Linked DNA regions of Homo sapiens. The protein of the gene in region 2 purifies or fractionates together with the protein of the main gene of each other region. This does not show direct contact. Each region holds a gene or a part of one and is shown on either strand. Other genes may lie near its edges.

The links.
Region 1: the proteins of EXOC6 (region 2) and EXOC3 purify together in Homo sapiens (affinity purification with mass spectrometry; 7 studies listed by BioGRID and IntAct, with this or other methods). This does not show direct contact.
Region 3: the proteins of EXOC6 (region 2) and EXOC2 purify together in Homo sapiens (affinity purification with mass spectrometry; 6 studies listed by BioGRID and IntAct, with this or other methods). This does not show direct contact.
Region 4: the proteins of EXOC6 (region 2) and EXOC1 purify together in Homo sapiens (affinity purification with mass spectrometry; 5 studies listed by BioGRID and IntAct, with this or other methods). This does not show direct contact.

What each region holds. Positions count from the first base shown.
Region 1 is NC_000005.10:438,065-446,234, reverse strand, and holds the start of EXOC3 (exocyst complex component 3), read right to left. Parts: upstream 3,060-8,170; 5' UTR 2,945-3,059; intron 86-2,944; 5' UTR 30-85; coding exon 1-29. UniProt on the Homo sapiens protein: Component of the exocyst complex involved in the docking of exocytic vesicles with fusion sites on the plasma membrane.
Region 2 is NC_000010.11:92,843,982-92,852,103, forward strand, and holds the start of EXOC6 (exocyst complex component 6), read left to right. Parts: upstream 1-4,538; 5' UTR 4,539-4,552; coding exon 4,553-4,653; intron 4,654-8,122. UniProt on the Homo sapiens protein: Component of the exocyst complex involved in the docking of exocytic vesicles with fusion sites on the plasma membrane.
Region 3 is NC_000006.12:626,710-634,750, forward strand, and holds part of EXOC2 (exocyst complex component 2), read right to left. Parts: intron 6,409-8,041; coding exon 6,232-6,408; intron 3,253-6,231; coding exon 3,126-3,252; intron 1-3,125. UniProt on the Homo sapiens protein: Component of the exocyst complex involved in the docking of exocytic vesicles with fusion sites on the plasma membrane.
Region 4 is NC_000004.12:55,870,133-55,878,173, forward strand, and holds part of EXOC1 (exocyst complex component 1), read left to right. Parts: intron 1-545; coding exon 546-773; intron 774-968; coding exon 969-1,101; intron 1,102-1,716; coding exon 1,717-1,826; intron 1,827-2,622; coding exon of another isoform or gene 2,623-2,676; intron 2,677-7,784; coding exon 7,785-7,934; intron 7,935-8,041.

The DNA.
Region 1 (8,170 bases), on a different chromosome or scaffold from region 2:
GCAACGGCCTCCCGGTCTGTCTCCTTCATGGTGAAAAAGCTGGTGGAATCCTCACACTGTTCATGCTAGGGGTGTTCTCTGTGCACTGCAGGAGTTGTTAGGACGGTAGAAATGTTAGGTACAAAACCTCCCCCAAACTATCAGGTGATCACAGTGGAGCTACAAGCAGAGCCTCTGAGATCATTAATCCAGGAAACCTCAAAGAAAGCTGAACTAGGATGAGGAACTCCTTGATAAGATAAACAAACCTTCGTAACACAAACATGCAGAAGTTATACCTTTAAGGGGAGAGCAGGGGCGTTTCACAGGCATGAGAGACATGGACATTGCGAAGATTCTAGATGTGGGTCCCAGACCACCCAGCATGTAGATGTCAGCCTCAAAGGCACATCTCTCCCCAAGACAGGGCTGGTTTCTCATTTCGGGAGCTTTCCCCCAGCACCTTGGCCAGGCCTGTGGGCAGCTGCACCAGGACCCTCAGTGAAGACAAATACAGCGTGGACAACTCCCCCGACCAGGTACCACAGCTGGAGGCCCAGCACAAGCCCCACAATTCCCACCCTATAAAAGTGACAATAGTCAGCCAGGCCCGGTGGCTCACGCCTGTAATCCCAGCACTTTGGCAGGCCGAGGCGGGTGGATCACGAGGTCAGGAGATCGAGACCATCCTGGCTAACATGGTGAAACCCTGTATCTACTAAAAATACACACAAAAAAATTAGCTGGGCATGTTGGTGGGTGCCTGTAGTCCCAGCTACTCGGGAGGCTGAGGCAGGAGACTGGCGTGAACCCCGGAGGCGGAGCTTGCAGTCAGCCGAGATCGCGCCACTGCACTCCAGCCTGGGCGACAGAGCGAGACTCCGTCTCAAAAAAAAAAAAAAGAAAAAAAAAGAAAAAGTCATTATTGTCTTGGGTATCCAAAACCCCATTTCCCCCTTTTTTAACTGTCCTAGAAAACATCATGCTTCCCTCCTTTATGCAGGCCCCGTGCAGACCACAGGTGCTCAGATGCCAGGCAAGCCTGCCTTCCATGCTCCCTCCACCATCGTCCTCCTCGGGGAGCTAACACAGCTGCTTGGTGAGCATCAGTCAATGAGGGAATCCGATACACCTGTTCCCCTTGACTTCAGCTGTCTGATTTTCATCTTCATGAATATTAAAAAGATTCACCTTCTCCTGGAATTTTTCATTCTCCATGCCCACATGCTTTCAGACACCTCTCTTCTCCTTTTTCATCTGGACCTACATTGCAACCTTTCCTTTCTCTTTATTTTCTGATTATGAAATTTGGCATACCAACGTAGAAAATCTGGACAGGACAAAAATACAAAGATGCCAGAGGCAACTCCCCTTAAATCCCATCATCTATGGGCAACTCCTCTTAAATCTTGCTACCCAGGGGCAACTTCCCTTAAATCTCACAATCCAGGGACAACTTCCCGTAAATCCCACCACTCAGGGGTAACCCCCGCTATATCCCACCACTCAGGGGCAACTCCCCTTAAATCCCGCCACCCAGGGACAACTCCCCTTAAATCCCGACACTCAGGGGCAACTCCCTCCAACAGGGCTTGTTTCCTTCCAGTTTTTTCCCTTTGAGTTTCTTTTAAAGCTAAGATTCCACTGCTTATATGACTTTGTAGGTGCACACTTTTGTTTTCTTATTTTGTTTGGACATTATCATCAGCATTTCCATTGACATTAAAGCCTGTATGATTTTGATTATAGGGCTGGATAATAACCCAAGAAGTGGACCCCCAGCCGCTCTGCTGGGGCACGCGGTGAGGTGGCTGCGCCCATCTTAAGGCTGGAGTGAAGTCTGTCACGCTGTGGGTGGAAGCCAAGGCAATGTGAGTGGAGAGCTGTGAAGCAGGGCTCGCCTTGGAGTCAGAATAAAGCTACTCATGTGGAAAAGGGGAAAATCTGGAGTTAAAAAACGCACCGCAGAGGCTTCCATCCCAGCCTGAAGACTAAAGATTTTGGGTCACAGAAGCCAAAGAGGAACTCAGAGACCATAAACAGAGACCCAGGTCCAGCCCCTACCAGGGCCTTTCTGACTGCCTTCCCCTGGCGCTGGCTCCGCTGTGAGCCTCTCCGCCGAGCGGGGGGACACCCTACTGCGGGGAACATCAGCACCCACGGAGACACCTGCGCCAGGGAGACACCTCTGCCGGGCAGACACCTCTGCCAGGAGGGACCCTTTACCGGGGGGACGCCTGCGCCGAGGGGAACACCTGTGCTGGGAGGCACCTCACGGAGGGGACACTCCGCTGGAGGACACCTGCACCTTGGAGGACACCTGCACCTTGAAAGCTTCCTAAAGGCCAGGAAGGACGCTTGTGCCCAGAAGGACACCTGCTCCGACGAGGGACACCTGGTCCGAGGGGGGACACCTGTGCCAGGAAGGACAACTGCGCCTGGGGGGGGACACCGTCAAGAGGACACCTGCACCAGGAAGTACACTTGTGCCTGGGAGGGACACCTGTGCTTGAGGGGACACTTGCACCTTGGAGAACTCCTGCGCCGAGGGGACACCTGCGCCAGGAAGGACACTTGTGCCTGGAGGGACATCTGCCCCAAGGAGGGACACCTGCTCCGAGGGGGGACACCTGTGCCAGGAAGGACACCAGCGCCTGGGGCGTGGGGGAAGACACTGTTAAGGGGACACCTGCACCAGGAAGGACCTTGTGCCTGTGGGGACACATGTGCCAAGGGGACACCTACGCCTGGGGGGGACACATGTGCCGGGGAGGACACCTGCGCCGAGGACACTCGCACGAGCGGGATACTCCACGGGGTCCGGAACGGCCTCCCCGCCCTCCAGGTCCCGGTCCGGCCTCCCCCTACGCGCCCCCGCGGAAGCCAGAGACAGGGAGAGCAAGGATGAAAGACGGCGACCACCTCCCAAGGACCCGCCGGCCGTCAGGACCTGCCACCGACTCACCCTCTACGGCTACGCCGCCGCCGCCGCCGCCGCCGCCGCCGCCGCCGCCGCCGCCGCCGCCCCCGCCGCCCCCTCCGCCTTCGCTGCCTCCGCCTCCGGGGTCCCGGCCGGAAGTGGACAGCGCGCGGGCACTTCCGCTTCCGGCAACGGCGCCGGAAGCACGGGTCCGGGCCCTCCCGCGGGGCGGGTACTCGTCTCCCGGCCGAGCGACTTCAGCTCGGGGACCTGCCCCATGGCCGCTCCCCAGCAGGACAGGGAAACCGCCGAGGTGGGGGGCTTCTTGTCCGTCCCAGCCCCCCCAACTCAGGCCCTCTCGCTGCCCCTGGCGACCACCGCGTGCGCCCTTCCCCAGGGCGGGCGCAGTCCTGGACGCCTCCGCCGAGCGTGACTGCGTGCATTTTCTCTCCTTTCCCTTCCCAACCTGCGGAGAGAAGACAGCCCCAGAGCCGCTGTCTCCATCCTCTGCTGATGCCTGCTGTCTTTATGTTGGCCTCGTCGTCCGCACTGCAGTGTGGCAGGGGCGTCCCTCGTTTCCCGCGGACTGAGGTGGGCGCCGGGCATTCAGTAAACGAAGAAACCAAAGCGGAGAAGGTTGGGAATCAAACGTCTGTCATACCTGCCACCAGCAGACAAGCGGCTTTGGGTACCTCCTGGACCCAAAGACGAACTCAGCCCCTCCAGGAGCGCAGTCATTGGCACCCTCGTGGGAACAATGCCAGTGGGATGGGTGGCCACCGGATGTTTCCGGGGCCCCTCAGAGGCCCAGCAGCGCAGGTCTTGGAGAATGAATGTGGGTCACTGGGCCGCGCTGCAGAGGGCCGGTCCTGAGTCGCTTCCTGGAGGAGAGGCCCATGGCCAGCACTTGGCTTCGCCTGGAGGAAGAAGCACGTGCTAAACCACGAGCGTTCAGGGTTTGTCTGTTTGATAAAAGATGCTGGCTTTGACACACCAACTGACAAAGTCTTTCATAGGTTGGAGCTGCTAGGTTGTGCCCCTGCCCCTCCTGAAAATTAGCCACACGAAAGGAAGGGTCTGGAAGGTGGCAGGGAAGCCAGCAGAGACCAGGGAAGTGGCAGCAGCATGGGGCAGGGGCACACAGGAAGGAGATGGAGCTTGCGGGAGCCCCCACTGCCACTCCGACAGGGAGCCCTGCCCCGTGCCCTGCTGATGTTGACACTGACCCCGGCTCTATTATTTCAGTTTTTCCTTGTAATTTCTGAAAATCTAGCAACAAGTTGAGCAATGAAAAAAAGTAAAAAAGTTAAAATTGTGTTAGAAATTATGACTGTAAAGAAATTTTGAAACTAATGAAGAAAAAATTGCCAAAATTGCCAAAGCTTTTAGGACTCTTAAAAATATAGTAACATTGAGTATTATGAACTAAAGACTCATACTATTATATCAGTGTCTGGTAGTGAATTTGGATGGAGGACTGTCTAGTAACTTCTTAACAAAACATTGATTAGAAGTCTTTCTTGGCGGGGCGCCGTGGCTCACGCCTGTAATCCCAGCACTTTGGGAGGCGAGGCAGGTAGATCATGAGGTCAGGAGATCGAGACCATCCTGGCTAACATGGTGAAACCCCGTCTCTACTAAAAAAAATACAAAAAAACTAGGCAGGTGTGGTGGTGGGCCCCTGGAGTCCCAGCTACTCGGGAGGCTGAGGCAGGAGAATGGCGTGAACCCGGGAGGCGGAGCTTGCAGTGAGCCAAGATCGCGCCACTGTACTCCAGCCTGGGCAACAGAGCGAGGCTCCGTCTCAAAAAAAAAAAAAAAAAAAAAAAAAAAAAAAAGGTATTTATTGGCTGGGCGCAGTGGCTCCTAACTGTAATCCCAGCACTTTGGGAGGCTGAGATGGGCAGACCCCTTGAGCCCAGGAGTTTGAGACCAGCCTGGGCAACATGGTCTTTTTGGTAGGAACCCCATCTCTACCAAAAAAAACCCCACAAAAATTAGCCAGGCATGGTGGTGCATGCCTGTAATCTCAGCTCCCTGGGAGGCTGAGGCAGGAGAATGGCTTCAACCCGGGAGGAGGAGGTTGCAGTGAACTGAGATGGCACCACTACACTCCAGCCTGGGTGACAGAGGGAGAATCTGTCTCAAAAAAAAAAGTTTCTTGACTTCTGTTTTTGGCAGACCATGTTCTGCGAACACCCAGGAGCACTGCTGAGTGCAAGCATCATGTCGATTGCACAAGTGGATTCACGAACAGGCAAGGACGTGACCAGGGACAAATGTGGGAAGGGGAGAGGACGTGAATCAGAAGCAGAGATGCTTGCCGTCCTACAGCAGGCAGGTGGGTGGGTAGGGTGCGAGTTCTGCGGCCCAGGGGTTGGGTTTTACACTGAAGCAGGACAGATGATGAAGCTAAGGCTCCCAGCAGGTGGGAGGTGGACGGCGACTCCCATGTGAAGCACAGATGTGCAAGGGATGCATCCTCAGTGAAAGCGTGGACTAGGAAAACAGCAACAGCCTGGAGACTGTTCCTAAACTCAGCCCTCGGCGGAAGCCAACCCAGGGTCATTGCTAGAGGGATCCTCCTCCACCTTGACAGGAGCAAACTCGAGGGGGAGGGAGGGGAGGGCACTGAAGCACCCACAGTCCTGACCCTGCTCTGGGAGAATAGAGACCGTGCTTAGCTCCTGCTTAGACCTTGTTAAATGCCCACATTAAGGTTAGCCACTACAGAAATAGAAACAGGAAGAGAGAAAATGCAGGCAACAGCACAGAGACTGCAGGCAAGGAGAAGATGAGGACCCTGTGTTGAAATGTATCAGTAATGAGAACACAAGTAAGTGGATTAGAAACAGTGAAACATTCATAGGCGAACATCTAAAGCATCAAGAAACAACGATTAGAACTGGAGGCTTTTCACACGTGGGTCAGCCAGGCCCGAGAAGCTGGTGTGGGGATATGAATATCAAACAACATGGGTTTTTGGTCAAAAGCCACTGTCAAAGATAGTTATTTTCCTAAGATGCAAAATGCATAAGCCATAAAGAATAAAATAGAAAAGTTGCTATATTAAAATCTTAAACTCTTGTGGGATATAATTTTTAAATCCTTAAGTGAAAAGCCAAGCCACAGACTGAGGGAAAACATTGTCAGCATCTGTAACTGACAAGAAAATTGCTATCCAGAATAAAAACAGAACTCCTGCAAATTGATCTAAAAGGGCAAACAAGTGCAGCAAGAAACGGGTAAAGGACAAGAGCCACTGGCTCCGGGGAATAAGCTGCTTCCCTCGGCCTTCAGGGAGACCTTGTCCCCACACCCTCCCCACGGGGCCCTGCTGAAGCCTCTGAGCCATGACTAGGGTGTCCGTTGACCTGACCAGACCATGAGCCATGACCCAGGCCCTGCTCTATTGTCAGCCAGACCTCACTGCGGCCATGCAGCCTCCCCCACTCGCTATTCAGCTCCAGCCGTCCATACGTCCTGCATAAAACTGCCCCCAAAGACCTGGGCCACCCCCAGCCCCAGCTCTGTGCACCTGCAAAGCACCGGTCCCCTCCATGCCCCGCAGAGTTTACGGGGTTCTCATGGTCACGTTCAGCTGCCTGCACCCCTTCCCCCTGCACACGCACACACCGCACATCACACATGTTCAGACGCCAGCTCTGGGACAGCACTGATGTCTGCATCGTTTTCTCCTGAATGCGTCCCCAGCACTGGTGCAGGGCCTGATACTCAACAAGGACTAAAAATATGCCGAATGAATAAACAAAATGCACATAAAACAGCTGCCGTTTCATCCCTTCAGAAGCCCAAGACTGAAAAAGTCTGTCCACACAGGTGCCAGTGTGGGGTGAGGATGGGAGCCCAGGAGGTGTGGCTGGTAGAAGGGAGGCCAAGTGGGTGCAGCCCCTCTGGAGGACGCTGGGCAGCGCCTGGTGAGATGAAATTGTGTGCGTCCAGCTGGGCGTGGTGGCTCACATCTGTAATTCCAGCATTTTGGGAGGCCGAGGTAGGCTGATCATGTGAGGCCAGGAGTTTTAGACCAGCCAGGCCAACAAGGTGAAACCCAGTCTCTACTAAAAATACAAAAATTAGCTGGGCGTGGTGGTGGATGCCTGTAGTCCCAGCTACTCTGGAGGCTGAGGTGGGAGAATCACTTAAACCTGAGAAGTGGAGGCTGCAGTGAGCCGAGACTGCACCACTGCACTCCAGCCTAGGCAGCAGAGTGAGACTCCATCTCAGGAAAAAAAAAGAAAAGAAAAGAAAAAAGAATTGTATGCGTTCCAACTCCACACAGGCACACTCAGCAGAAGCCAGACTGGGGGTGAGGAGTGAAAATGCGGGAACTCCATCTGCCTGAGGCCACAGAGGAGAGGGCATGGGGGGCAGGGTGGGTCAAGTTGTGGGGCCACAGATGGGAGGGCTGGCCTGGTCCTGGGGGAGGACACGGGAGTCTTACACGAGTGACCAGGACGGGTTTGCTGATGGGCTGCAGGGTGCGAAGGAGGCCTGGCAGGGGCTGCGCAGGCTCTAAAGATGCCTGAAAGGAAACAAAAGCGCAGCTCCCTGGGCCTTGGACTGCCGTTTGTGCTTAAGGAGACCCCAGCACTTTTTTCGATGGCATTGAGGGGTCTGGCCGTAATCTGCCTGGGCCCTTCCCCCTTCCCATGGGCTTGTCGTGCAGGCCCTGTGCCAGGCAGGGTGGACCCCGCATGGCCCCGGACCCACAGTGCCCTCAGCTCTACCCTCCTCACTTCTTACAGGACGGGTCAGGTCTGGGACGTCCTGAGAGCACCCAGGAGGGGCCCTGACCCTCAGTGACAGGGGAGGGGGGCCTAGGCCCTCTCTAGATGCCACTGGTCAGGAGCAGGGAGATGGCAGGCATTTTCTCCTCCTTCACGAGGCTTGCGGCTCTAGAGTTTTTATTTTTATTGCTGCCTTATATTTAGTGGTGAAAGGCTGTCTTAGAATGTAGATTAACCAGCACACTCTTTAAAGGAAATAAAGTGACTTTGGAAAATCACGCAGACTTCCGCAAACATTTAAATTTTTGTTAAACATGTACTAGCATGTCATGTATTTTACATCAATATTGCAAATTTAATACAAACCACAGTACAAAAAAATTTGAAAGCTTCCTAAAGGCACTGAGAAAGCAGTAGAGAAAGTTGCATTTATAGTGCATAAGTTTTAAAAATTCAACAAGTTGGTCTAGGTATTGAAAACTTTTTTCTTCCAGTAGAAACTGCAAAAATATAAGTTGTATTG
Region 2 (8,122 bases):
AAAAAAAAAAAAAAAAAAAATTAGCTGGGCGTGGTGGCACGTGCCTGTAGTCCCAGCTACACAGAAGGCTGAGGCAGGGGAATCACTTGAACTTGGAGGGCGGAGGTTGCAGTGAGCCGAGATCGCGCCACTGCACTCCAGCCTGGTGACAGAGCAAGACTGTGTCTCAGAAAAAAAAAAAAAGGAAAAAAAAGAAAAACATGCCATTTACAACATTAAGCTTAATACGACAAGTATTTGCATGTGGATCATTCACTTATTAATTGAGCCTCTACTATATGCAAGGCACTGGGCTGGGCAGTGAACAATACAGGCATCGTCCCTGTGCCTGATGTAGGAGCAGTTCCTGGAAATGGAGACAGACTCAGTGATTTGTTCACCACCATGATATGTGCTTCCAAGGATGAGTGAGCACTGCTCCCAAGGACAACGAAAGGTGCTTGCCTTAAAAGCGCAGGATCCAGAGGGTTCACTAAAATGGGTCTGGAACCAAGAATCCAACCCAAAGACATGTTCCTGTTTCCCTCTCTACAAAAGCAGGAAACATATTTCAGTTGGTTTACATCCACCAAACATGCAGAAAACCCTGATACACAATCAGGTTTTTTTTTAATGATTAGGAAAAAGAACATTTATGTGTCTGGTTTTTATTTTTATTTTATCAAAGAGGAGGCTAAAATGCTGGGCTCTCTGGCTTACTAGCAAATGCCTGATAACCCTAGTCGCCAATGCTAATGTTGATTGAGCTCTAGGCTAAACATAATACATATATTATCTTCTTTAATCCTCACATAATTTGGTGAGCTAGGGATTCTTATTGTCCTTAATTCACACTTGAAGAACGTGAGCCTTAGTCAAGTTAAGTAACTCCCTGAGGCCTGACATCTAGTAAGAGATGAGTTGGAATTTGAATTCAAGTAGTTAAATGCCAGACCAGAGCAGTTGCACTCTACAACCTCATTCTGAGGGAGGCGCTTTCCCAAGACAGGTCATTAGTCTGTAGATAAAAGGCGCAAAGTTAAGTTCCTAATGACTAAGAGTTTATTTACAAGTCAAATCCTTACTTTGCCAATTACTTTTATACTGGACACAAAATGCATCTCCTGTCCTGCTGGTCTTCCTGGTGTATCTTTCTTCTTCCAGGAGTCCTGAAAAGAGATTTTGGATTGATCTCTGGAAGTCAATATCCACTGCCAAAAAATAATTCCACATGCATCTGCAATCTGCCTGTCTGTGCCCTGCTACTCCGCAACCTTCTCAGTGCAGACGTTAAATCATTCACTCCTTGGGGCTGGGCGTGGTGGCTCATGCCTGTAATCCCAGCACTTCAGAAGGCCAAGTCAGGGCAATCACTTTAGGGAAGGAGTGTGAGACCAGCCTGGCCAACATGGTGAAAGCCCATCTCTACTATAAATACAAAAATTAGCTGGATGTGGTGACATGTACCTGTAATCCCAGCTACTCAGGAGACTGAGGCAGGAGAATCGCTTGAAAGCGGGAGGCAGAGGTTGCAGTGAGCCAAGATCGCACCACTGCACTCCAGCCTGGGCAACAGAGAGAGACTCCATCTCAAAAAAAAAAAAAAAAAAAAATCATTTATCCCTTGGATAGGCTTCCCCCACCCCACATTGACATATTTGATATATCTATGTCCATGATTAAAATGTACAGTTAGGGCCGGGGACGGTGGCTCACGCCTGTAATCCCAACACTTTAGGAGGCCGAGGCGGGCAGATCACCTGAGGTCGGGAGTTTGAGACCAGCCTGACCAACATGGAGAAACCCAGTCTCTACTAAAAATACAAAATTAGCTGGGCGTGGTGGCACGTGCCTGTAATCCCAGCTACTCCGGAGGCTGAGGCAGGAGAATCACTTGAACCCAGGAGGCGGAGGTTGCAGTGAGCCAAGATCACGCCATTGTTACCCAGCCTGGGTAACAAAAGCGAAACTCTGTCTCGAAAAAACCAACCAAACAAACAAAACAAATGTGCAATTAGTTATTTAGGACATTTAGCTTTGAATTCTTAGCTAAAACCTCCAGGTACTCACGGAACTGTCAGAAGTCTCAGAGGGAACCAGCAAAAACTGTTTCAGAAGGAGAAGTGGTAAATGGACTTCCTTCCATGTTCACTTGAATTTCGGGGAAGATACTGCTGCTTATGTTGAAGTAATCTCTATGGGCAGGTGTTGAAACAGGGCTGGCCTGAGGAGTGCCTAAGCAGGGCTGGTTTCCCAGAGCAGGGGCACTTGGAGCCAGCTTTGGAATAAAAGGTATCAGGACTGGTGAAGAAAAGGGGTAGAGTTCTAGGGAAGGAATGATCAGGAAAGTAATTCCCCAGCTGGAGACATTGGTCAAATAGGAAACTGGCCTGTGCCACATGCCCTGCTCTCCTCATTTTGCTCATTATCATAGTTCACCGCAGCCTCGAACTCCTGGGCTCAAGCAATCCTCCTGCCTCAGCCTCCCAAAGCTCTGGGATTATAGGTGTGAGCCACTGTGCTCGACCTAAGAAGTTCTTGAGAGGGGAAAATAACCTTTTGAAAATTGAAACTGAAACATAAAAAAAAGAAGACAAATTTTATCCCCTCCCACAAAAAGAATGAAAAGCTAGGTCTCTCTGCAGGAAATGGAAGACTGTCTTAGCTCAATGGATGTGTATAGCTGGAATCCATTGCTCTGAAGATTCCAGATTAATAGGAAGGAGGGCATTAGCAATGTTTTATAGGGCCCTTCCTAAGTTTGGTAGGCAGTGGGTCCCACTGATGCTCACATTCTAATCCCTGGAACCTGTGCATATGTTATTTTTACATGACAAAGGGGGTATTGCATATGTGATTAAGGTTAAGGACCCTGAGATGGAAGATTATCCTGGATTAAATGGTTGGGTCCACTCTAATCATATGGGTCCTTAAAAACTGAGCATCTTTTCCAGCCTAAGTCAGAGTCAGAGGAAGATGTGACCACAGAAGAATGGTCAGAGAGATGTAATGCTGCTAGCTTTGAAGATGGAGGAAGGGGGCCACAAGCCAAGGTATGTGGGTGGCCTCTAGAAGCTGGAAAAGGCAAAGAAACAAATTCTCCCGCAGAGTCTCTAGCAAGGAACACAGACATGCTGACACCTTGATTTTTAGCCCAGTGAGACCTGTGACAGACTTCTAACGTACAGAACTGTAAGATAATATGTCTGAGTCATTTTAAGCTACTCAATTTGTGGTGATTTGTTAAAGCAACAATGGAAAACTCATACACCATGGGACAGCAATATGAGGCAGACACTGCCATTGTCATTTACAGTCATTTAACTGACATATAAAAGAACTAGGTTCTTGCCCAATGTCACACAGCTGTCAAGTGATATTAATCCAAGAATTAATGTCTTCGGACACTGGTCTTCAGAGCTCATGCTCTAACTATTGCACAATACCACCTCCCAGGATGTTTGTGGGGAGGAGGCTGGAGGTAGGTTTCAAGTAAAAGCTCACTAAGGGTGAGTGAGTTACACAGCTGGATAAAGAGCTTGGTTGACTCAAAGGGAAGCTTTTCAAAGCCCTGGATTAATGTAGAGCAGAAAGTAGTTGTTCCTCAGGCTAGGTTTCCATTCTGTTCCTGTTTAGTCTTCCTTCCTCCCTGCTTTGATCATGACAAACTGGTTTACTCAGTGTCCCACAAACATGTCATTAAGCACGACTTTTTTCTACACTGATACCTTTGTCCAAGCCTCCCTGCCTCTCTCTCCCACCTCCCTGCTGCTAACCCCCTTTCAAGAGCTCTCACCCCTTCTCAACCCAGCTACTCTGACCTGGGGGCACCTGAGTTCACGGACTTTGGTATGAATTACACATCGCCCTGGGCCTTTTTTTTTTTTTTTTTTTTTGGTATCTCTGCCATCAAGTGTCTTAACTTCTCATCATTTAATTTTTTATGTCGCTTATAATTTATTTCCAAGTTGACTGGCCGCTGTGGACTTCTTGCAGGCGGGGACATGAATCCACCTGGAGCGGTCTTCATGGTCAACTGGGATCTTTATTCGTTCCTAAAATAAATCTTACTATCACATGCAATTTTGCTTTTCGTGAGTGCATGTTTTCCTTTCTCTGACTCCCCACGACCCAGAGTACATCAGGCCCTTGTTAAATGTCCCCGTGGCTCTTATTACAGATTCAGGGTGATGATCTGAGTGTCCACCTTGCTGATTACTACGGTACCCCCGCGTGTGGCACAGGGTGTGGCACACACAGAAGACAAGGAGATATGTTAAAGCCCAAAGGCCAGGCACAAGACGCCCAGGAGGGACTAGTCGCGAGAGAGGGCAGGAGGCCAGCTGGGTACCCGGCCGCCGCCCGTAGCCCCAGCTCACAGCCCCCGCTCACTCCTGCAGGTGCGGGGGCGGGAACCGGGTCGCGCGCCTTCTGCCCGGCGTTCCGCGCGCCCCCGCGCCGCCGGCCCGAGCGCCCCGCCCCCGCCCCGCCCCTTCGCGCTCGCGCCACTTGGAGCTCGCCCCCGTCGTTCCCGCGGCGCCGCGCCTCGCTGGCTCCTCAGCTTCCAGCCAAAATGGCGGAGAACAGCGAGAGTCTGGGCACCGTCCCCGAGCACGAGCGGATCTTGCAGGAGATCGAGAGCACCGACACCGCCTGTGTGGGGCCCACCCTCCGGTAAAGATCTCATCCCACCGGGACTTCGGCCCCCCGCCCCACGCCGGCCGCTCCTCACGAGCCGGGCGGGGCGTCCGCCGCCGGCCGCGCGCGAAGCTCCCCGACAGGTGGTGCGCGCGGGGGCGGGCGGGGGCGCTCGCGGGTGGCGGAACTCTAGCCGGTACCCGGGCGGGACCGAGAAGGCGGCTGCACCTGTCGGCGCGGCCTGCCTCCACCGCTGTAGCTGTCACCCCGCAGCCGGTGGGTGTGGCTGCTGCAGGGTCTCTAACCCCGGGCCCCGCGCTGCGGCCCCGCGTTCTCCTCCTGGCTGCGGCCCCCGGGCCCGAGGACACTTCTGGGGCCTGCCCCCGTCTCGCTCGTGGTGGGGCTGAGGGCTGCTCGGCCGCGGGCATGCCAGGCTAGGGTCGACAGCAGGCACCCGGCGTGACGGAGGTGCCAGGTCGCGCGCGGGTGGAAAGCCTGGCGCGCCGGGCTGCCGCGGGCGTGGGAGAATTGAAATTGAGCGGGAGACGCCGGCCCGCTTTCCCCCTACTCCCCCGCGCGGCCGCAGTGGGCGAGAAGAGAGCGTGGGCTGGAGAAGAGAGCGTGGGCTGGAGGAGAGCAGCTGCTTGCTGCTTGGGAACACGCTAGGGTGACCCTGCGCTCGCGGGATCTAAGCTGCTTTGGAGGCAGAACAGCTTTTACTTATTTACAAACATTTCATTAAAATTGCATTAATTTTTCCGTTTAAATCGAGTTCCTCCCCATTCATTTTAAGAATAGTACTAGGTAATGCATATTCCATGCCAAACTGAGTACCTGCTGTTCCAATAGAATATTATTAGCCAGGCAACGTAATGAGCCATGGGTTAGGTTAGGCACTGTCTTCAAGAATAAGTTCCTTTTACATATAAGGTTTCATCTTTTGGAGTGATAATAATGATAAATGAAGTTATTATTCACTTAGGGAACTTGAGACTGATTATGCTTTATCATTAGTATTCTTCAGAATACACTTCCTAGAATAGAGCGCTGTACAGTTTGTGGACCTGTGAATATAGTGTAAATTGAAGCCAGTTCAAGTTATGTAAATACACCTTGCCCTTAAGAGTCAGGAGGCCTGGGTTCTTGTTTTGCCCTAATTCTGCCTCTGATGAAATGTGCAGTCATGGAAAAAAATTATTTAACCTCTCTGGATCTCGGTTTCCTTATTTGTAGAATGGGGAGGGGAGAGTATTCAGATGCCCAGGAAACTCAGAACATTAGGGACCTTGCCTATTTGTTCACTACTGTATCCCTAACACCAAGCATGTGGTAGGCATGTTATAAATTTTTGTCACATAAGGTTTCTGCTATGATATGATAATGCATAATTAGTGCATTTCCTTAATTTTCCAACATTATTATTTCTTTTAATAAACTGTATACTTGGTAATGAAAGAAGTAAGATTAAAAGGAAGCTTTGTTTTCATCACTGCATCTTGAAACTGAGAGTGCAGTGTGTGATAAAGTTACTAGAGTAGTTTATTTGTGAAAATAGTACTGGTTATGAAGGAGGTGCTTCATCTTAGGAAAATGTGCTAGGTAGTGTCCTTGAAAAAAGATGAAATTAACTTAGAAGAAAAATTTGAAATATATTGAGAGATTTTTGGGACACTCAGGAACAGAATATGTGTATTCATAGTGTTATTCTGTTCTTTTTTGCTGGGCAGTTGTTTCAACTGGCTCATTTTGTTTGAACCCACTCTCTTTTCTTTAGCAATCCCTGGTGACTCATACTTATCCCATATATATGTATATTTGTGTCTCATTTATAAGCAGACGCTTTTTGCACACATATAGAGGGTACTGCTAGCAGTCTTTTCTCTTGAACATTGTTTAAGCTACTACTATTTTTTCCCTTTTTTTTCAGGTTTCACGAAGTGAAGTGTTAATATTGCATTTTTAAAAACCATTTATTATGGAAAAATTTTAAATGTTTAAAAAAGTAAAATAGTGTAATGAACCACCATGAACTGTCATCTAGCTTCAATTCATTCCCTGGCCAGTCTTGTTTGATCTCTTCCCTTATCTACTCCCTATCATCTTGGATTATTTTGAAGGAAATCCAAGACATCAATTTATTCATAAATATTTTAGTATTAAGATTAATTTTTGTTGTTATTTCCTAATTATCTTTTAGCTGGCCTGTAGACTTATCATTTTATTTATATTGTTTTTTCTCAGCGGCGGGATTTTTCAGCCTGATCTTTTCCTGAGAAGCACGTGATAAACTTTCCGCAGGCCCTGACATATAACATGGTTCTTTGACCACAACAGAAGTATATTAGAAATCAGTAGTTAAAAAAAACAAAAAAACAAAAACTATCTGGAAAATTCCCAAATATTTGGTCATTGACTAACACACAAAAAATAAATCAAAAGAGAAATTAGAAAGTATTTTAAACTGAGTAAAATGAAAACACAGCATATCATTTGTGAATGCAGCTAAAGAAATAGTTAGAAGTTTATGGCACCAAACACCTCTACTAGAAAAGAATGGCTTCAGCTCCTAGCCTAAGAAACTAGGAAAAGAGGAGCAAATGAAATTCAGAAGAGTGGAAGAAAGGAGATGGTAAAGATCAGAGTGGTATTCAGTGAGACAGAAATACAGAAAGTCAGTGAAACTCAAAACTGGTTCTTTGAGGAGACTGTAAAATTGATAAACCTTTAGGGGTAGAAAAGGAGACGATACAAATTAAAAATAACAGGGCCAGGCGCGGTGGCTCACGCCTGTAATCCTAGCACTTTGGGAGGCCGAGGCAGGCAGATCACTTGAGGTCAGGAGTTTGAGACCAGCCTGGCCAACATGGTGAAACCCCGTCCCTACTAAAAATACAAAAAAATATTAGCTGGGTGTGGTAGCACACGCTTGTAATCCCAGCTGCTCGAGAGGCTGAGGCAGGAGAATCGCTTGAATCCGGGAGGCGGAGGTTGCAGTGAGCCGAGATTATGCCACTACTCTCTAGCCTGAGCGACGGAGCGAGACTCCATCTTAAAAAAACAAAAACAAAAACAAACAAAAAAAAAACAAAACCAACCAACTAACCAAACAAACAAAAAAACGGGAGTGAGAGAGGTTACGTGACTATAGATTCTACAGACATTAAAAAAAGGTTAAGAAATATTATGAATAGGCTGAGTGCAGTGGCTCATGCCTGTAATCCCAGCACTTTGGGAGGCTGAAGCAGGAGGATTGCTTGAGCTCAGGCATACAAGACCAGCCTGGGTAACATAATGAGACCTTGTCTCTACAAATACAAAAATTAGCTAAGTGTGGTGGTGTGTGCCTGTGGTCCCAGCTACTCGGGAGGCTAACGTGGGAGAATGGCTCAGAGTCTGGGTCGTTAAGGCTGTAGAGAGCTGAGATTGTGCCACTGCACTCCAGCCTAGGCAACAGAGTGAGACCCCCATCTCAAAAAATGTATATATATTATGAACAACTTCATGC
Region 3 (8,041 bases), on a different chromosome or scaffold from region 2:
GCCTCCCAAGTAGCTGAGATTACATGCGCCTGCCACCACGCCCAGCTAATTTTTTGTATTTTTAGTAGAGACGGGGTTTCACCACGTTGGCCAGGCTGGTCTCAAACTCCTGACCTCAAGTGATCCGCCCGCCTCGGCCTCTCAAAGTGCTGGGATTACAGGCGTGAGCCACCACGCCCGGCCGCAAACTTTTTTAAGTATGTTTCCACAAACAAATAATACTAAAACCCTATTATTCCTTCAATACTGACATTTTCAAAAAGTAGGTGCTCTCTAGGTTTTTAATTATTTTTTTAAAAGCCCCAAATGACATTAATAAACAGAACTAAAAGACAGTAGGGATCCTGACCTGAGTACAATACCATCCTCTACCAAAGCCTTCATCTGAAAAATAGTAAGTAAATCAGCAAAATAAAACCCACATCAACATTCTACAGTCTGCCTTTCCTTCCTTTTATCTTTCTCTAAAACAAGATTTATCTAACAGAGGTCAAAGAATTCAGTAAGATAAACACAGCTTTCTTGACAGTATCCAAAAAAAAAAAAAAAAAAAAAGAAGCCTGGAAAAGCATTTTTCTGGCCAAAAGCATTATCTTCTCTTGGTTTCTACACCTATTCTTACTTTCATCTTTCATTTTCTTGCTTCCTGGAATCTCTACATCTAGCCTCTCTTTCTTTTGAAAGTCTTTTGCCAAACACTTTCAGACGGACAGAAGGATGACTGGATGTCTGTTCACGGCCTAAAGGGCCCTCCCCGTGTTCCCTGATGCTACAGGATCCGCGCCTTTCTCTGATCATTGGCTATTCTGAGTCTCTATTAGAAAGACAGAGCTGGCTTGTGGAGGGCTAATGGCGATGCCAGGGATTCCTGTCCACAGAAATGCACATCAGGTGAGGATACCACTGGCTCCTCCGAGACGGAGTGACGGTCTTGCATCTTTCGGCATTTCTCATTGCGTATGTCTCCCCTCTGGACTTTCCTTTGGGCTGGATTTAACATCTTATTGGTTCTTTCCTTAATTATGAGTTAAATAAAAGCTCTGACATCTATTTATTTTATATTTGTATAAGAATCATGATTTTCCCTTTTTCAAAAATTATCCTTTAATATTTTACTTTATCCCATGGCTGAGCAAATATTTCTGAAACTTAAGTAACAATCTGTACAGTAACATCAAAATCTGTTAATTTTATTCCCACTGAAGTACTTATTGGATAAATGTACATAATGTTATTTTAAAATTTTAAAACACTTTAGTACCCTGGAATCTTAAGTCATTAAACAAAAACTTTTCCTATGTGGCAGAACAATGAATAGTATATATCCAAGAAGAGCAAAGAATCCTGTAAGGATGAACACTTGTGAGGCACTTGCTATGCTCCAAGTTGTTTACCTCCTCACTTCCTGATTCCTCGCATCGACCCTAAGGAACAGGTACTGCATTGTACACCTGAGGAAACTGAGGCAAAAGGAATCTAAGTAACTTACTCAATGTCATATTGCTAGTAAGTGGCACAGCCCAAGTTCAAATTGAGAGAGTTTTGCCCCACACAAAATCAAACTACCTCTCAGAGAAGAAAAGAACATTTTAAGAAAGCTAAGTACTTTCAGTGCCATTATTCTTCACTGCCATTACCAATCTCATCAAATAATTAACCTGACACTTATTAGGAACACTGCTGTTAGACGCAGTTCAGGCCAAACCACACTGTGGGCAGCAGCAACAGGAATAATAAAGAGATTCAAAGGCTGAGAAGGTGTGGGGAGGTAGAGAGAACAGGGGTGGGGGTAAACACCAAAACAGAAGTTGAAGAAATCACGTTTATGATAGTAAACGTCTGAATGAACCCTAACTGATAATTTTGTCCAAGTCTCATACTAAATATATTTTGTATATCTCCATATTCCTTTTGCCCATGTATAAAACTGGCTCTTGGTTATGAAGAGCAGCTCAGAGGGCCTCCTGCTCCACACTTCTCAGGCAGGTTGGAAAGAGACTGGCTTTCCAGAGCCTTGAAGCACCCATAAGGGGCTTACTATCAACTGCAAGTCTATTCATGCTTAAAACTGTGCTCAAATAAATACCCAACTGTTACCATTATTTTCTAAACCTTCTCAATCTTTGAACTCTTAATTTTGGAGGCACTGGAATCCTTAAACGGCTCTAGAATGACCCATACTGCAAAAATGTTTCAAAGATGTTACCTAGAACAGTCAAAGCTCACGTGAAGCTGCTAAGCCCCAGACTTTTTCAACACGTGCTACTTTCCCAAGACAAACATGCTACTTCCCCTCAGCCAGGGGCAAACCCCAGCAGGTGAAAATGAAACTAATGATCTTCAAGAGTAGGCTTGAAGATTATATATAGAGAGATTATTGGAGAATTTTCCCCATTCCTAGAAAACCCTAAACTAAAACCATGGTTAAAGTATTAACAGTGCTAATTTGTCACTTTTGGTAAGAGTTTACAGAGCAATACTCAGTATACAATTCCATAAGCAGAAGCACTAAGGCCAGAAGATAAATTAGCTGCGATTAACACATTAGGTGAATTGTTTAAGTAGAAAGGCACTAATTATAAAAGTTACTAAAACACTGTACTAGGAATTCAGAAAAAAACTCTAGATTCAGTTATAAGGCATCTTGAAAGATATCATTTACCTGGCAGAATTCTGATGATTAAAGTTAAATAAGTCTGGATTAAGCAAGAATGAGTAGACATTATAGACAAAATTAAAGACCAGATTAGACCTGGCTATTCTAAAATACTTCTAGAAAAATCAAAAAAACAGATTATGTATGCTATTTTGACTTCAGGTGCCATCTACCTATTTAAACTTAACCATCTCTAGACAACATACTAAAGACTTTTCTTTTTCACAAAATGCAAAATCAAAAAACTGAAGAGGTAAAAGTAGTTTTAGCCACAAGTTTTAACTAACTGCAAAGTTTACTTGCAGCATAGCTAACAAGGCTTCATAAATAACACCCATCTCCAAACAACTGAGGTGTCTTCAACTGTGTTTCCTGGGATGTTTCTGGAGTTTGAGTCCCTTTCCTGTAAGTATATAAAACTTTTCAGGAACTGAAAAATAAAGAAGACTGAAAGCAAGATGGTACTCACTTTTCAATCTCAATGCCAAGCGGGTTAGCAGGACGTAAGGACAAGGGCGGAATTCCTTTGTTCCTGTCAGTGCGCATATCATAATAATTCATTTCATCAACCCACACAGCAGACTGATCCAAAATGCCTACAGAAATGAGGAGCATATGCTTAATAAGATGAAGCCTACCCCAGGCACCTTCTACGTCTGGCCTATTGTCTGACTTCTTAAAGACCTAATACAAAATGCCTGTTGGATAATCTTTAAGAGATTTGAGGACATAACAGCTAAATTTTTAAAAAATGACTAGTAGTTTAATTATAAGCACTAAAAAAATTTATAAAAAGGCAAAAATTACACCTCTCAGCTTATGGTTTCATTGTACATTACTCAACAGAGAAGACAAATTAAGCTGCTTAGACAAAGTTTTGCAATAACAAACATATTTTACAAATAATAAACACTACAATTAAACATTGTTAAATGTAGCTGATTAAATCTGCACAAAAAATTCAGAAAGTCAGTAAGATGAAATAATATGACCTATAATATCTGTTTATTCAAGAGAATATTCTGAAATCATGTAAACTCTTGGAAAATGTCTGGGAAATATCCAAGCACAAAACATTCGAGTAAAATGTTAGCTCAGTGGAAAGCTTCTGGTTTATGATAAATGCCGAAAAACCATTATGCATATATGATTTTATATTTAATACTGTGAGTTTCTGCTTCTGGGTTCCATAAGCTACCTAAGGACATTTCACTACAAATGAAAACCAAATGTTTTTTAAATGGTTCTTGAAAGCTCTCAAGAAATATCTTTTATTTTCTTTTCCTCTACAAACTCTGGCATGTTTTCATGAATAGTTATGCAAAAATAATATGCTACTTGCTATTTCTCATTCTTTTTGCTGTTATCAGTGCTGGAAATGTCCTAGATGGTAGAAACAGCAGGGATTTTTTTCCGTATTAGGCTGAAATCAATTTGGTAAATTCAATAAAATATCTAACGATTAAATCAAACACCTTTCAAGGAACGCATGGCTTGTATAATGGAAATAACCAGGTTATTCAGGGAAAACTGACTGGGTGTGGACCCTGTGAACAAGACAACATAAGCTCTAAAAACAGCATCTTCCTTTATGGGACTGAACTCCGTTATCATTCAACCTAGCACAGGGCTTACCAGCTAGGCCTCCAAGGCCCTGGGCTGCAACAGAAAAAGAGCCAAGTGCCAGGGAGCACAGACAAAGCGTGCCTGCCTCCCCAGGCGAGGATCAGAAGGCTTCATGGGAGAAGGCTGTCTGAATACCAGGCAACCTGTAGCTGCAAGGCCCTCTATGAACCCACTCATTCTCTCAGCACTCGTGGTTCTGCCAGCATGCAACAGGGGCTTCTGCTCAAGTCCAGGCACTCTTGAGTTCAGTTCAAGAAAGCTTTACTGGCCGGGTGCAGTAGCTCACACCTGTAATCCCAGCACTTTGGGAGGCCGAGGTGGGCGAATCACAAGGTCCGGAGTTCGAGACCAGCCTGACCAACATGGTGAAACCCCATCTCTACTAAAAATACAAAAATTAGCTGGGCATGGTGGCACGCACCTGTAATCCCGGCTACTGCAGAGGCTGAGGCAGGAGAATTGCTTGAACCTGGGAGGCGGAGGTTGCAGTAAGCCAAGATTGAGATCGCGCCATTGCACTCCAGCATGGGCGACAGAGCAAGACTCTGTCTCAAAACAAAAAGAAAAAAAAAAAGAAACCTTTACTAAGCCTACTATGTGCTAGGTCCTGGAATGAGTATTCCAGAATAATAAAATTACCACTTTTGCCTAAGTTTTCTTTATCTGCTATATAAATAGATCATAAGATATTAGATTTTTATCAAAATGTTTAAGTCCCTCTAGAAAACTGTACAACAAGTTCCTGCTTTAGTTTCAGTTTAGTTTTTGAAGACACTAAATAAAAAGAGTAAACAAAAATAGAAATGTTATATATGTATATATGTACACATGCACGTACATGTACATATATAAAGTCCACTCTGAATTTTCCCTGAAATTCCTTGAATTTTTATTTATAAAAATAATCTAGGAATTTGTGGAGAACAATGCTGCAGAAAGCCTCTATGCTCTAAGATTAAAAAAACAATTTGCAAAATTATTTATTTTCTTTATAAAGAGAAGTACTGGCTGGGTTTAATTACGCCTCTGATATTCCTACATTATACAAATATTTATCAAATGCTGACCAGGTGCAAGACATTACAGGACCACAAAGATGAATCTGACATTACTCTTATTCTAAAAAGGGAAAGAGACATGCACAGAAATAGCTACAAGAAAGATCATCAGAAATTATTAATTTGCTGGGTAAGGGACTATGCTAAGCACTTTACATTTATGTTCTAACTCACCCAATCCTATGAGGTAGCCAATATATTCCACTTTTGCTCATGGATAAAGAAGGTATTAAAGTTACATACTCAGTCATGGTAAGAGAGTCCAGGTTAGAATTCAAAGAGCATGACTTCTCAGACCAAGTTCCTAACGCTGCTAACGTAAGGCAGCAAGTTCCTAACACTGCTAACGGAAGGCAGCAAGTGGTCAGCGCATAAAGAAGGAAAACAAAGTGCTATGTGGTTCAAAGAAGAGTGAGTATTACTAACAGGGGCGTTAAAAGCAGCCAAGCTAGGAAATGTATCATCTGGGCCTTGAAGGATGGATAAAATGAAGGAAAAGGGAATATTATTTAGATATATTATTACTAATTTGGCCAAATCAGGATTTTTCACCTCAAACCTTGTTTAAGAGTTTAAAGCAATGTCATTATATTCAAGATCAAGGAACCAAAACTGGTATATCAAGTGAACGAACAGATTTTAAGAACTGAGAAGAGTAGTTCTCATACGACCGTCATCCTTAGGCTTCACTGACTGTTACCTCAGCACACTGCCTTCCCGAAAGTAACACAAATATTAACCAACATCCCAATCCTGTCAAAATAAACATAAACTAAATCTAAGTTGAGATATGCAAGTAGGTAGGTTTTACACGAATCTACCAGCTTTACAGCTTAAAAGACAAACTCATTTTTACTTTCTTCTTTAGAATAAACCCATGAAAGACTTTACCTATTTTCTCAGGTTTGAGTAGCTTGAAAGAGACTGTTGAGGTTCCTCTGCCACCTGACTTAGTGGTGACAATAATGTCTCCTTTGTCATTTTTGGCTTGTCCCACTCGACATACTATTTTACTTGCAGACATCCATTCTGCCGTCAGGAGGCAATTATGTCCACAAATGGTCAAGCCTGAAAATAAACGCATGTGCATAACAAAATTCAAAGACAAGAACAATAAGACCTTAATCGTGTAGATTACATTTTTTAAATCTAGTCTTGTTCAATAATGACATTATTGAATATACCCAATATTATTTGCAGATATACTGTTATCTCTATTGACTTTTCCTCTTACCTGTTTTTTTCTCCAATATTTAAGACTTCTTTTAGGCTACATTTGAGTTTCTTCAAACATCCGTAGAATTAGAAAACGAACACCACAACAACTATGTTGCAGGAATTCCAGATTACTTAGATTACGAGAATCTTAAAATGCTTTCAGAGGTAATAAAAGGGAAACTACTGCTATTATTTGAAGTCTCAGTTATTAACATAGAATTTTAAAGTGTATTAATAAACGTATGTATCATTTTCTAAAAACATTCTACATTCACCCATCTTCCTGAGACAAATCTTCACGTGCTTTTTCTAGTGTTCACTTATACATGGCATTACAGAATGAACTAAAGTAGGTTTTTTATTTAAGCATAACCAAGAGTCAGGTAATCTAGTGAAGTGTGCTCAGGCATTACTGGATTACCATCTCACTTTTACATCGGTGTGTCAGCTGCTGGCATAGTAGTTCCTCCTGCCCTAGTGCTTTCCTAATGAAACTGTCACTACACTACATTCTGCTCTTACAGTAAACCTACACTCCCAGAAGGTCAACTCATGATGTCACCTCCCTCATACCATGTAAAACAAAATTTAGGTAATAACCAAACAGAGAGGCACTGAAAGATGCAGTGAGTAAGGCACACACCTCAGGGGGAATACCAGCATGGCACCACACTGGTCAGCTAGCCTTCCAACTTACTTCCTTTAGATTTTCCATTTCCACAAAACAGAGACCAATGTAATTAATATTTATGGAGAAAAGAAACCAGAATGTATGTGGCACAGACACAGACACTTGACGTTTTCTTTTTTTTTTTTGAGACAGGGTCTTGCTCTGTTGCCCAGGCTGGAATGCAGTGGCGTGATCTTGGCTCAATGCAACCTCCATCTCCCACGCTCAAGCAATTCTCCAGCCTCAGCCTCCCAAGCAGCTGGGACTACCGGTGAGCACCACCACGCTCGGCTAGTTTTTTTGTTGTTGTTTTGTTTTTGTATTTTTTTTAGAGACACAGTTTCGTCATGCTGGTCAGGCTGGTCTCGAACTCCTGGCCTCAAGTGATCCACCTGCCTTGGCCTCCCAAAGTGCTAGGATTACAGGTGTGAGCCACCATGCCCGGCAGACACTTCACACTTTTTCTCATTATTTAACTTTCTATAATGTTCAGCACTAAGGTTTAGCAATGGCAATGTTTTCTTTCGGCTTTTTTTCAGATACCAGAAATATATCACCTAATGCCAAATCTGACTTTAAAATGGAGGCACAAAGTCAAATCATCTTTTGTTCCAACTTAAAGAACTATTTAGTAAGAATGTTAAACCATAAAGGAATAAAAGCAACTATGCTTTAAAGATACATTGCTTGAAATAATGAATTTTAGGGGTTTCTCTAAAATACCTATAATTCACTAATGTCTGCAACTTTGTTTTTCTAATAATGGCATTAAAAGGTTTCCTCAGGACTATGGTTTCTACTGGTATATTTTAA
Region 4 (8,041 bases), on a different chromosome or scaffold from region 2:
CTGTTACTAGTTCCCATCATACTACAGTTATAAATTAGTTTCATATATCCTTCAGAGTCTGGTATACCACTGCTGCTTTCTCAACTAAGATATCACATAGGTGATTATGCTTTTATTTAGGGTTTCACATAGGTGTTAAGAAAATTTCTAGCTGGTAGAATTGGAGGAAATGTTAGAGATAACATGGCCTAATGCCTCCTAAATGTATAGAAATGAGAATGTGCCATTACCAGTGATACTTTCTGGCACCTTACTTGTGCATTCTGGAACCTTACTTGTGCAGTCTGTGGAAATATAAAATCCTAAGGCATGGTCCCTAACATTGATTTAGAGGCAAGTGTACCTGCATGAAATACTGTGTAAAACATGGAAGAACATAAAGTGATAAACTGAAGTAGATGTGTAGGTATATATCAATTTTTGTTATGCTACTTTCAAGGAAATTTAGCAACATTTCACCTTTATTCTTTTACACATCTAAATAACAAGTATGTTTTTTGTTTGTTTGTTTGTTTGTTTGTTTGTTTTGGTCTTTAACTTTGTAGGCTAACATCCAGTCAATCATGGCATCTGAAAAACAAGTCAACATCCTGATGAAATTGCTAGATGAGGCTCTAAAGGAGGTAGATCAGATTGAATTGAAACTGAGCAGTTATGAGGAAATGCTCCAAAGTGTAAAAGAACAAATGGATCAGATCTCTGAAAGCAACCACCTAATTCATCTTAGTAACACTAATAATGTAAAACTCCTATCTGAGATAGAGTTCCTTGTGGTAAGTATGATCATAAATTACCAACAAAAAAAAACTAGTGATGATATATAAAACCCATTTGTAAACATTTTTTAATTTCCTTGTGAGAACAGGATTTAAAATAATTCCAAAGACCTAATGATAGGACTGAATAGCATCTTGCCTGTAAATTTCCCAAAATTACACATGCAAATGGTGTGTTTGCATATATTCTAGAACCACATGGACTTGGCCAAAGGTCATATAAAGGCCCTTCAGGAAGGAGATCTTGCTTCTTCCAGAGGCATTGAGGCCTGCACCAATGCTGCTGATGCCCTTCTGCAGTGCATGAATGTAGCTCTTCGACCAGGTATGTTCATTAGAAATGACAAAAATGTGACCAAGAATGTGAGACTAAGCCTGTAACTTGTTATAAAGGTTTTGACAAGAAATACATGAGACAAGTGGTTTAAGGGTTACATTATTAGCTATTCAAGTTTCACTGATTTCCCAACTTATTTCTATTGATACTAGGAACTTTTTTACTTCAGTTCCTCCTTCTAATTGTCCTCAATGACTATAGTCAACACCATGATCTTTATTTAGTACTATCCACAGAACCCAGCAGAAAGTAGGTGCTTTGGTTAGACGAGAGCAATTATTTCAAAACTTGAGTGTCCGTCAGAATCCCTAGAGGTCTTGTTAAAAACATAGATTGCCTGGCCCCAGTCCCAGATTCAGCAGATCTGGGCTGAGATTTTAGAATCCACATTTCTAACAGTTCCCAGGCGATGGTGAGGCAAGACCACACTTTGAGAACTACTGTGAAATCCCATTTTTCTCCTGCTTAACTTTTATCATGTAAATGAATACACCCATAAAACTTTTGGGTTCTTCAAAACGTTAGATACGTTTAATGTTCCATTAAACATCAAGGAAATCTTTTTACCCATTAAACTGGTCACAAAATGTCGTTCTGTGTCAGGCCATGACTTGCTTCTGGCAGTCAAACAGCAACAGCAGCGATTCAGTGATTTGCGAGAGCTTTTTGCCCGGAGACTGGCCAGTCACCTCAACAATGTTTTTGTTCAACAGGTAATTTTATTTTATTATTAAAACGAGCATGTTCCTATAGCTTATTTATGTATTAACCTTACATTTCCACAAAAATGTTAATATGTTTAATTGGGGTTGCAGTCAATTCCTTCACATATTTGATTTTAAGATTTTGAAATAGGAGCCTCTTTGCTCATAGATGTACTTTGGGCCTCAGCTGCCTCTTTTGGTAGACAGTCTAGTTCCTTTCAGCTGATGCTCTCTGATTCTAGAAATCAAATAACTATGCATATGAATTGCATATACTACTTAGATATTTTTATTTATAAAGTAAGTCCAAACTTGTTAGATATTTACTATTGGACCTGTTTTATTTTTCAGTATTTTGAGGTGAGACTCAGGACTTGATTCAGTGTTTTAAATGTTTTGTAAGTTCTATGTACTTAGTACATAGTATAATTGTTAAGAAAATGACTAGCTCAACTGCAAATTTCAGTTGATCTAATCTTCATATAAATGCTTTACCTATATTTTTATATGGAAAAGGATGTTATAATTAAGAGTGTGGTAATAATATTGTTATTAATAATATTAAGAGTACCTTTGAGGGATTTGAATAAAAGCCATTTTAATATCTAATACAATAAATTAGGTTTCTTATTTTTTCATCTCTTTTAAAAGTCCCTTTTATTTTATTAGAGTTATAGAATGAAAAAAAATTGGGGGAATATCTCGTTCATCAAGAAATACTGCCTGAAAACAATGGATTTTTACTTTATTTTCACTTTGCAATATTCTAAAACAATTGTATTTACTATATTTTATTTCCAATTAGTTTACTCAGGCCCTCCTTCAACTCTATAACAGGTCCTACTTTCTTTCGGTTCCTGTGAGTACATCAAATTTGGCTCAAGCTTCTCTGATTCTGTTTTTTTTTTTCTATAAAGTTTGCTAAACTTAACAGCAGCCGAATCTTTACAGATTATAACTTACTGATTTAAGCTACCTGTTAACCACATTCGTAGCAGTTTTTAAATGTCCCATAGTAGAGACTATTTTGGCCAAAAAAGCATTTAATCTCATTCTGCTTGCTTTTCTTTCTGTCATTTTTTCACTCCATTTAGTAATAAATAGTAATATTACTCCTTCATTTAGTAATAGTAGTAATATTAATCCTTCATTTATTTAGTATTGCCAGGTGATTGAGGTACATACCAGACATTAACTTGGGATAAATGAGAGACCAATCCTGTCCTCTAGTAGTTCACAGTCTAGGGAAGCGAGACAAACAAATAATATACTCAAGAGGGATAAATGTTATGACAGCGAGACTGTGGGAGTGTAAAGGAAGACCACCTAACTAAAAGCACGGTAGGGGGGAATCAGAGAGATTCCCTTAACATTCCACTTGACTGAAAAGTGTCGAGAAAAAAGTAAGCTTAAATGTCACATAGGAAATACTAATTCATGTTTTTGTTAGGTACTTACTTCAATAACATCTATTTCTATACAATTCCTTAGTTTTTAAAAATGACACTGTTGACAATTATGTTATCCACATTTGTTAGATAGTATTGAAAATACCAGCCAGTAAACAATAGTCTTTTCTGTACCCTTAACTGTTTGTTGTAACATGCAGTTATTTATGATTTTGCTTCTTGCCTTGTAAACTAATGGCCTCGTTTAAAATGAATGCTTCCCATTTCTGAAAAGCTGATATGTGTTATTACATGTGAGTGATGCATGTTAAAAATCAGAACGCTGCGACAACCTGGGGTGTGCCAAAAACGGTGGAAGAAGATATCCCACACATAAGAAAGATTTTCTTAGTGTTGCATTCAGTGCATCAGGTCACCTAGCAAAATTGTTGAGAAACATGGGTATTTCTATTCCTGGTAGGGAGACAAGCTGGGAAAATTGATTAAAATAATATGGTACACCTCTTTGGCAATCACAGAATTTTCATTGTATGCTTATTATGTACTCACTGTCTACCATATATAAGAATAAGCAATAGTTCCTACCCTCAAGATGCTTGTAAGAAGGAATTAAAACTAATGTACTTACTCTTTGTAAGGAGTTAAGACTAATGTACATTAGCAATGTATGTAATAAATTGCTAATTGTAGAACTGTGGACTGTAAGTGCTAAAAAGGTTTAATCAAAAGTGAGTTTATTGAGAATTTAAGGAGTGAGATATGGAAGGAATTGCAGATAAGGTAGGACTTGAACGAGTCCATGCAATACAGTTTATAGCAAATGTATAGTTACAACATTTACAAATATTGTACTGAAGAATCCAGTGAAAATAATCTATTCACAATATAACAGTAATTTCAAAGCATTGATTCTCAGTCTTTTTAAAATTCACAAATTAGTAAAATTAAAAGAAATAAAATTCGGAGACTGACCAAATCACCAATTTTTTTATTTTACCAAATAAAGACCTTTAAAAAGAAATACTATTATCCACTTTCATTATCTTTTCATTTTAAAAATGACATTTTGGCACTAAAAGAATAAGAATTTCCTTTCCGATTTTAAAAATTAATACATTTACCCTTATGAAGGACTCACTTCTTTCATTGTACTTTTTCTTATTGCTATAGGCCAGGAAAAACATCTTGCATTTGGGAATGACTGATCCAGAGCATGCTATCTGTAATGCAACTTTCCTATTAATACTTCTGTGTTATCTATACTTAAGTGAAACTTGAAGTGTATTTTAATATAATAATCACTGTAATATAATATGAGAGTAATGTTACATAAAGAGTAGTTAGCTTCTTTTAGATCTTTCAGATCTTACACACTCAACTTCCCCTGAAATTATAGGCTCTTGCCCATAATTTTTACATTTACTAGGGATTTCTGTATCTAGAAAGATCAAGAATGAGAATCTGGTCAGTTTACACTAATTAGGATTATGATATTGAAAACAGTCAAATTAAGGCTAATGAAATTGAGGAAATATTTGCATAAAGAATATGTCCTTTAAAAAATTGTTTTGGTTGTTTTTTGAAAGATTTATTTTGATAACTACTCTCTGCCTTTTGTTTCCCCCTTTGGTTCTACAGAGACCTCATGATTCTATCTACTTTTGCCTTTAGCAACATGATGAGACTGATTATGTACATAACTTAGAGAAAATGAAAATAAACTGAAATGCACTGAACTAAAAGTACAACCAGGAAAAAACTGAAGTTGTGGAACTTTTTACCATATGCTTAAGTTTAGAAATTTTTCTCTCAACATACATATACAGAAACAAGCTATAATAAAATAAAACCTGTATTGCAGACCACCAGCATTCAATTTCTTTTACAAAAATTGTTTCCTTAAGCATATTTGTAAACACGGATTGATGATCTCTGGTTAAAAGCTTAGAAAGACTTGTGATTAAGATCTATTTTTGTGAGGTTTGTTGGAACTTTGCTCAGATTTTTTTTTTAAGAAAAGAATAAGTAAGTATGCCATAACAGAAAGAAGGAGTTCCAAATCTTGAAAATTTATTCAAATTTTGACCCCAATGTATCATTTCTTTAAAAAAGTCACTATAGCAAAGTGCTTAAGAGTGCAGACACTAGAGCCAAACTTCCTGGGTTCAAAATCCTGACTCTCCTACCTCCTAGCTGGGTTACCTTGAACAAGTTAATTGACATTTGTGCCTGAGTAAACAGTAGTAGAAGAACATAGACAATAATTTTGAGTCTTGAATCATTGAGAAAAATTAATGAGGAAGATTGTTTTGGATAACGATACATTGTTACTAATAAAAACTATTTGGTAAACATTTGTATGATATAAGTCTGTCAAATATTCTTCCCCTTTAATCAGCGTGACCAATTAAGGCACATAGTTTAGGCCAGGCGCAGTGGCTCACACCTGTAATTCCAGCACTTTGGGAGGCTGAAGTGGGCCAATAACTTGAGCCCAGGAGTTTGGGGGCAACCTGGGCAGCATAGTAAGACTCCATCTCTATTAATAAAAATAAATTTTTAAAAAATAAAACACAATTTGGAGACATTTATAGACCTAAAACTATAATATCTATATCTGGCTAGTATCTAATACATGTGATGCTGTAGAATCCTGATTATCCTTCTGGCATCTTGGTTAGAAAACATTTCTGTAATAGAATGTTTATATTGACCTTTGGCAACATAGAAATAGATAATAGTCCAATGGTAATGCCTGTGTATTTTACTTAATATTATTGATTTTGTTCATCTTTATTGTTAGCCCTTACAGAAAAGATATGGTAGCCCAGGCATTCTAAAAATACAGAATTGTTCCATTCTTCAACACTTTAGCTCTTAGTCCTCATTGATTCTTTTGGAAGATGTGATTGTTTTATATTCAGGTAGCCACCCAGAAAAGAATATCCACATAGGTCTACGCTCCGTTATCCAGAATTCTGGGGGTCAGGAGTGTTTTTAGAATGTTTCAGATTTTAGAAAAGCAATACAGTATATATACTGTATATTATATAATCACTCCAAGCACATGTTTTTGCAACAAAAAATATGAATAGTCACTCTAAGCACTATAAATAGGCCCATGTCAGTTCAGGTCACATTTTACCATCAAAATTGTTTTGGTGCCAAGCTTAGTCTGAGTTTTCAGAGCTTTTTGGCTGTCAGAATTACAGAAAGGGATTATGGACCTATTAATATACCTTGTGTATAACATCTGTGGTAGCTGTGAACTTCTGTTGCCCCTGTGTTCTAGTTCTTGTTATTTTGAACTGGTCAGTTTCATTTTGTGATATTTTTCTGCCATCTCTAGTTCAGTTTCCCAAGTTAACCTAAGTAGATATCAGTAAGATGAATCTGAGAAGTGTATTGGTTGTTTTCTACCATTTTATATGTAATTTCTGTATAATGGGTCCTTTTTTCTTTTTAATTTCCATTTTAAATTGGGATATATTCTCACATGAAGAAAATTTTCCAACAGACTGATTTGAAAACATTTATGAAGAAGGGACATGGATAATGATGTGGGTTTTTGTACTTGGCATGTCTTATACTCCCATCTTTCTTTCTCAGTTACCAAGGAACTCCTCATTTCCTCTAGGCCAGAAATGTTTCCTTCTGAATAGTCTGTATTTAAAAGAAAATTTTTTAAAATTCATAACCACTAGGTTATTTTGTGTATATAGTACAGTATATAAATTAGGTGAAAGAAATCCCTTTTAACTTAAAAGAATTTAAATTCAGGACGCTTATTTAGCTAATGTGTACCAACTAGTATGATACACATTCATAATTAGCTTTAGGTAACCTTATCAGGAAATGAGTTAACTAGCTCCAAAACTCTAGCAGTCTGTGTAATTTTAATACAGTTTTCACAAAATGCTGACAAATAACTTCTGGCTATCTAGGCAAATTAGATTGAGTGAAAATTACATCAAATAAATCTGTCTTGGTTTGCCTTTTGCTTGTTGTTGGGAAATTGTATTTTCAATTTGAATCTGCTCCAAGACAGAAGTAAGACTCAGATGACCAAGGTTCCAATTCCAAGCTCTAAGACTTTATATTCTACTTTTTTTTATCTGTTGTTTTAAATATTACAAACTCTAATGGGAATACCATAAATGTAGACTGTTTTGAATGATTTCTCTATTTGTGTTTCTTAATTCAAGCTATATCAAGAAGGTCATTTGCTTGGTAAATTGTGAAATATGGTATGAGAGAGACAAGCTTCATTAAAACGTTCCATCTTCATTCCTTTAAAAGACGGAATGGGTAGTTGATTTATCAGAGTGCCATTCTTGCGTATTTATGATTATCTTATGGTGGTAATGTTCATTTGATATACACAGGATATAAAAGTTGTGTAAGTATTTGGTTTTTATTTTTCTGTGTTCTATTCTTAATTATTTTTCTATGTCTTATTGGTTTGGCTTGGCCACATTTTGGTCATTGTTTAGACTTTTTATTGTAACGTTTCTTTGTACTGTTGATTACATTTATTTACTTATTTTACTCACTTTAGGGTCATGATCAGAGTTCGACTCTTGCCCAACACTCTGTTGAACTGACTTTACCCAATCATCATCCATTTCATAGAGATTTGCTCCGATATGCCAAGCTGATGGAGTGGCTAAAGAGTACAGATTATGGAAAATATGAAGGACTAACAAAGGTATGGATTTGACGTCATTTACTCACTGAGAATAGAGCATTATCTTTTAGAATTAAGAGGTCATGTGTTCAGTTCCCCAAGTTTAAAATACTGTAGTACATTCTTAG